Homo sapiens: one gene and its partner. The protein of the gene in region 1 interacts with the protein of each later gene in a pairwise test. Each region holds a gene or a part of one and is shown in the gene's direction. Other genes may lie near its edges.

Region 1 (3,549 bases):
CTTCCCCTCCCTAGCATTCTGTTCTTGTTTCATGTGTATATTATTTTATATATTTAGACTGTCGATTATAATTTAATCTCATTCTTTTTCTGTTTGGTTTTTCTACATATTGGGGACTGTGTCCTTTTGCACTAAGTTTGTCAATGACCTAAAGATGGTTTATTTCTCACTCATGTAAAAGGCTAGAGTAGAGGCATGCAAGCTAGGGCCAGTTGGTGACTCTGCTGCAGATATTTTCAGATACCCAGTTCTCATTTCTGGGGTGAGACTCTGGCCTTGTAGTCCAAGATGAGGGTCTCTGAGTTCTAGCAGCAGAAGGGAAGAAAGGCTGAAGGCATGTACAGCTCTGTTAAGGAAGGTCCTTGTCATATGATGCTTCTACTGAATTATGTTTTCCAGAACCTGTTCTCCAGGCTTTGCCTAGCTGCAAAGAAGCCTAGCAAATATCTAAATTCTGGTTGTACGTGTTCCTGGCCAAAAAAAAAAAAAAAAAAAGTCCTATTACTGTGAAGGAAGGGAGGGCAGCTGCTGGGAGGCAGGAGGCCACCTCTTTCACAGAGGGTTTCCTCAAATGGCTGGTGATCTTTGACCACTAAGATTTAAAAGAGACATCACAAAGCTGATTGGGAGCTCCAGGTGCTTGGTGGGGCAGGTTGCAGTGTGGTCAAAGACAGCCTGCACACATTAGAGTATGTAGGTGTTTCCTCAGGGTCCATTGAGTCCTCCTCTTTCTGCCCCGTGTGTGTGCCAAGGGACCGGCATTCTGGGAGCCAAGCTGGGCAGCAGGACAGAGGTTCTCACTGTCTGGTATTGAGATTCCTTTTCATAGCCGCGTTACCAGTATACCACCTTCCTGCTGTCTGCTCCAGCCTGCCCCCAAGTCAAGGGCCTCTTTGGTTCCATTTTCCCAGAAAGGAGACCTCGTGATTGCTGAGGCCATCTGGACACATAGGGGCAGTGGACGGGGTGGGGAACATTTGACCTGACCTCCTTTATTCAGCCCCACCAGATAGCTCTAATTCCTGGTTCCATCAGTTCCTAGGTCTCTCCAGGCTCTGAGGGGCAGACCGGTCCCTTTTACATTGGCACCACTCTGCCAAATCAGTCATCACACTGCCACCCACCCTGAACCTTTGGGTTTATTGGTCCTTTTCCTGTCCTTTGCTTGTGTTGGAGTACTACCTGTCTTAGTCCCTTAGGGTTGGAGAAAGTAGGGATGTGTGTGGAGCCTGCCTTGCTGAGCCAGAGGTTTTGCACGTCTTTTCCTAGTGGAAAGTTTCTCCGTCTTTGGAGCAGCGGACTGACATTGTCAGCACCACTGTGTCTCCACCTTTTGCTCAGCATTGTCTGGGTCACACAAGTATGGGGTTTCCTGCTTTCAAGGGATTTGAATCTAGTTAGGGAGTTAAATGCAGCTCCAACAGCTAACCAATACCTATGGTCTGAATGTTTGTGTCTCCCCAAAATGTGTATGTTGAAACCTAATCATCCATGTGATATTAAGAGGTGAGGCCTCTGGGAGATGATGAGGTCATGAAGATGAAACCCTCTTACATGGAGTTAGTGGCCTTATAAAAGAGGTCCCTGAGAGCTGTCTTGTCCTTTCCACCATAAATTCTCGGCAGGAAAAAAGATGAACAAAGTGATCAGAACCTATTCAGGCCACAGTTGGTAGATTCCTAGTCAGAAACATAGGTTACATCTAAGGAATCATAGGTGATAGGAGGCGGCCAGATTCAGGAAGACATTCAAATATGTGTGGATGGATTTGGACTTGATGAAGTGGATGGCAGGGAACCACTGAGGAAGAGTGTGTTGATAAAAGTCATATTCGGGGAAGAGGCAGTAGTTGTGCTGGAGCTCGTGAAAACTCAAAATTTCAATTGTAAAATTTTCAGGAGTTTTGTGCCCTCGTTAATGTCACTTTGGTAGTTTGAAATCAGCTCTGGGAGGAATATTTACAGCATAGGAATAGGCAAATGCTACAAACAGGGGTCCACCTCCCCCGAGAGCTGGCTATTAAACATGTACCAGCACACCACTGTGTGCAGGACATGTCAAATGACAAACTTCATTTTAATGAGGCTCTGTTTCATGTTAGGCACCGTGCTGGGTGTGCTGCGGCTGAACCTGTTAACAGGGTCCAGGAATGTGTTAAAGCAGCTGTGAGTTGTGCAAATAGAAGAAAAAGCTCTGGAAGTACTTCCACAAAATGGATGGTTAGACTTGATGACGTTGTATATGATGAAGTTGTATATATAAGAGATCAAGGAAACAGAAGAAGGGAATGACTTGAAACTTCCTGGTCTGAGAAAAAAATTTAAACCAAGGAATAACTGGGAAAGAAATGTGTTACTTTCAATTTTGATTACTCATGGGAATGAGCAGGTAAGCAGGGCCTGTAGAAAACTGTTTCCAGCTGACAACTTGCTTCACAATTTCATTTGGGTATGAGAGCAGGGTTCAGGCGTGAGGTTCCAGCTGGTGATGTGAATGGGAGCTGAATCCATTCAGAAGGTATGGAGACAGTTGATGGGAACTTGCCTGGTGAATGCCCAGAGTTTAGAGATGGAAGGGAGGACCAAGGAAGGCTCATGACTTTCTGCCTGTGCTGCCATCTCCTGACACATTTTCTCCAGTTCTTCCATGTTCTTTTTTTTTTTTTTTTTTTTTTGAGACAGAGTCTCACTCTATCACCCAGGCTGGAGTGTACTGGCGCCATCTCGGCCTCACTACAACCTCCGCCTCCCAGGTTCAAGGGATTCTCCTGCCTCAGCCTCCCAAGTAGCTGAGATTACAAGCGCCTGCTACCACATCCAGCTCATTTTTTGTATTTTTAGTAGAGGTGGGGTTTCCATGTTGGCCAGGCTGATCTTGAACTCCTGACCTCAGGTGATCCGCCCGCCTCGGTCTCCCAAAGTGCTGGGATTCCAGGTGTGAGCCATCGTGTCCGGCCTTCCAGTTCTTCCATTCTACTTGCACCTTCCAAATGGAGTTCCAGGGAGTGCAGGCTCTGCCTTCATCCATTTTTTTTTGTTTTACTATTTTTTTTCTTGTTGTTGAGATATGATTCACATACCATAAAATGTGTGCTTTTAAAGTGTCCAATTCAGTGGTTTTTAGTATATTCACAAAGTTGTGCAGCCATTGCCACTATCTAATTCCAGAACATTTTCCTCACCCCGAAATGAAACTCACAATTCTTTGGCCTCAGATAGCCTCTGTTCTCCTTTGTTTCTATGGATTTGCCTATTCAGGACATATTTTGTAACTAGAATTGTCAAATATGTGTCATTTTGTGGCTGTCTTATTTCACTTAGCATGTTTTTGAGGTTTATCCATGTTGTAGCTTGTACAAACCTCATTCTTTTTTTGTTTTTTGTTTTTTATGAGACAGAGTCCCTGTTGCCCAGGCTGGAGTGCAGTGGCACGATCTCGGCTCACTGCAACCTCTGCCTCCCAGGTTCAAGCGATTCTCCTGCCTCAGCCTCCCAAGTAGCTGGGATTACAGGCACCTGCCACCACACCTGGCTAATTTTTGTATTTTTA
Region 2 (3,549 bases), on another chromosome or scaffold:
AAAAAAAAAATTACTAAAATAAAGGTGCGTGTGTGTGTATGCACATATATCTAAAGGGAGAGAGGGAGAAGGAAACTTACTAAATAAAATTTTTGCCACATGGGATTTAGTCTAATCAGTCTTGGTTTTGGAGTTGCTATCATCAGTAGTTCCATTTTGTGATTCTTTCTTTCTGCCTTCATGTGCCTTTGAAAACTGAAACTATGCCCAAATTAAAACAAGTTTTTCTGTCTTTTCACATGTTCACTTATTTCTTGAATGTGTTTTTAAACACAGACAAACTTCTTTTACATCATGTAGAATCTGAAGGTCGAGAAATTTGCAGTCATTTTGCTGGAGAGAGATGCTTGGCGGAGTCCCAGGCCACATTCCTAGGCCAAACTCTCGAAGGTATTCCTCTTATGCAACATTGGGAAAATACATCCAGCACCGACATGTTGGCTGATAATGTGTCTGAAGGCACAGACGATATGCTTATCATATGAAACATAAAGCCAGCAGATATTGCAGACATTCTGTTGAATGATAGAATCTGGATCATTTACATTTACTTAAATGTAAAATACTATGATTAAGTACAAAAAAATCAATTTAGGAGAGAATAGAGAGTTGCGGGCACGGTTTTAGGGGATGACTTATCAGCAGATTGTAGAAAGGAAGCTTGAATGTTTTAAATTAACTGCAAGTTCAGTATAAGCCAGTGGTGTGACAAGAGGCTGTTATCATAGCTACTGAAATTTTGGGCTGCACTGCTAGAAATATAATACTGAAATGGAGAAGCTAATAATTCTTCACTTTTTAAATAGACTGTATCTAGAATATTATCATCAGTTCAAGGAAATGAAATAAGTTGTTTTAGGTACATCATCGATAAATTAGTGTACATTCAAATCACTGTGACCAGGATGCATAGGGAATTTGAAAGCATTGCATGTGAGCAATGGTTGAGGGGACTTGGAATGCATGACTTAGGGACAAGAAAACTTAGGCTGGAATGGCAAGTGGTTTTTGAATGTTGGGTTGAGAAGAATTCTAAAACTGTGAAGGATTAGTAAAAATAACATTCAGATTGCTAATGCCTACTGTGGCTGGGAGATTAGAGTGTCAACATGTGTGATGTATTTTTGACATCCTTATTTTGAGGATGGGCTTCAAAGATTTGACGAACTGTCATAAGTGTAATTTGTGTTGCTTCAGACAGCAGTTCTAGAACCAATGATGTAAATTTAGATACTCTACATGGTAGTTAGAAAACTTTCCATTAATTTAATTTAGCAAATATTGAATGCTCACTGCATACAGAGCACTTTATTAGAGGAATATATAATAAAGAAAAAAGAGGTCTGGTGTGGTGGCTCATGCCTGTAATCCCAGCACTCTGGGAGGCTGAGGTGGGAGGATCACTTGAGCCCAGGAGATCATTACGAGTCTGGACAACATAGCAAGACCCCATCTTTACAAAAGACAAAAAAAATTATCCAAGCCTGGTGACAGGCACTTGTAGTCCCAGCTACTTGGGAGGCTGAGGCAGTAGGATCGTTTGAGCCCAGGAGGTTGGGGCTGCAGTGAGCCGTGATTGTCCCACTGCTCTTCAGCCTGGGTGACAGAGTGAGACCCCGTTGGAGGGAAGGAAGGGAAGGAAGGAAGAAAGGTAGGAAGGCTGAAATGAAACCCTTTTAGAAATGACACTAAAATGGGAGGTTGGAGTAAGGTATTTTCTGAAGTGCCTTTGTACTTGTTTTTTTCTAATGCATTGGCCATAAGTCTGCTCCTTATTTATAGTCCATAAACAATCCTAATGAGAACAGTTATATATTTCTGCCTTTGAATCATCTACTTGAAGTGTTTAGCATCATGAATTGAGTATCAGAAATCCCTCCCATTTCTTTGCAAAGCGCTGTATTTTACTTTTCCTTATTTGTATACAGATTCTCAAAATTGGCTATTTTTCCTTTGGGTTAGACAGAACAGAATGTCTGGAAAAAAAAGTTCTTATCAAATTCAGGTGCCCAAATTGCTTAAGAAATTAACTTTTGAGGTTATATTTTTTTAGGGTTCAGTAGCTAAACTAAGAAAACTTCTCACCGTTCACCTTCACTTTTGGAAACCACAAAATCTTCAGATATTACAGTTTTCCAAAGAGTTTCTCTTTTTAAATATAAACTAAAAGGAATTGACTCCTCCCCCAACTCCCTCAGGCCTCAGCATGGATAGAGTTACTTTTTTTCTTTAATAATTTATTTATAACTTATTTTGCTCTTCTGTAGAACAGCTGGAGATTAAGCAACATGGCCATGACATAAAATGCAAGTTAGACCATAAGATGAGCAGCCCACTCCAAGTATGAATGAGTACTTATTCTTTGTGATCTCTCATACTGCTTTTAGGTATTAATAGTGTCAGTCAGCAAAGCAAACAGTTTAATATTTACATCTCCTTTAGGATATCATATAGTTTATAGTTTGTATGTGTTCTTGCGTGTATGTTTTCTTCTGTTTCAAATTCTTTTTTCTTAAAGTAAGAATGTTATATGTAGCAAATGGTTCTTTCATTAATTCATTTGTTAATTCACCGTGCATTAATTGAGTGCCCAGTGAGTGTCAGGCACTGGGCTACTTGGATTTCTTTTCCCTGTATTGATCCATATATCTTCAGGTGCTCCTTGATATGGCTCTCCATTGACTCTCTCATATAAGGCTTTCATTACCTATTCACATACTCCCTCCCAAAGAGGACTGGTCCAAAAGTAAAATCTTGAGCAAGTTCTCTGAGTTATTTCAGAACTTCTTGCCCCCAAACTGTATTTTTAATTATTGACTGGTAGCATTTTGGAATAACTTACCTCTCTTTTTTAAAGATTGAAGTTCTTTATCCTCTCTGATTTTCAGGTGTCAGTTTGTGTACAAATTGAGACAATAAAAATGTTTGTTAGACATTTTCTTAAAGCATTTTGCTATGTGAGAATCTTTCATGAAGAACTCTTTTTAACAATGACTCTATAGCAGAAGCCACAGTAGAGGGAGAACTACTGAATCAAAGATGGTGTTTGAGTCTATGATTTTATGATGGATTTTTTTTTTTTTTACATACAAGGATATGCATGGGTCTTTTAGTATTCAGGAATCTGTTCTTCACTTGACAGTATTTATAAATTGTGTGTTTCCCCCTAAAAAAACTTAAATTGTGAGAATGCTTCCATTTACTAGAAGTTGGTTAATGATTATGCCAAATAAGGAAAATAAGACAGAAAAATCAGTTTAGTGAATACTATTTTGCCTTTAAATTTAGTAATTTAGTAACAGTATCTCTTTGGGGTTTACTAGAAACCACTTTTTAATCCAATAGGTCTCTTTCATTGTGAAGTCAGGAGGTGATTTTGCTTAAATGTGTAGTATAGGAATCTATATGTGGTGTTCAAGGATCATGTAAATATGCTGATATAATCGGAGCACAGTTTGGCATCATTAACTCAGAAATATTTAAACTCTTGCTATACAACATGGAAGCAAACTTGTGCATAGTTTGTGTGTGTGTGTGTGTGTGAATCTC

Evidence for each region. The genes of interacting proteins can lie anywhere in the genome.
Region 2: the proteins of FKBP6 (region 1) and BDNF interact in binary tests that used the Homo sapiens proteins (3 or more experiments, as listed by UniProt).

Annotation. Positions count from the first base shown.
Region 1 is NC_000007.14:73,334,658-73,338,206, forward strand, and holds part of FKBP6 (inactive peptidyl-prolyl cis-trans isomerase FKBP6), read left to right. Parts: intron 1-3,549. UniProt on the Homo sapiens protein: Has an essential role in spermatogenesis. It is required to repress transposable elements and prevent their mobilization, which is essential for the germline integrity.
Region 2 is NC_000011.10:27,690,434-27,693,982, reverse strand, and holds part of BDNF (neurotrophic factor BDNF precursor form isoform a preproprotein), read left to right. Parts: intron 1-2,842; exon of another isoform or gene 2,843-2,877; intron 2,878-3,549. UniProt on the Homo sapiens protein: Important signaling molecule that activates signaling cascades downstream of NTRK2. During development, promotes the survival and differentiation of selected neuronal populations of the peripheral and central nervous systems.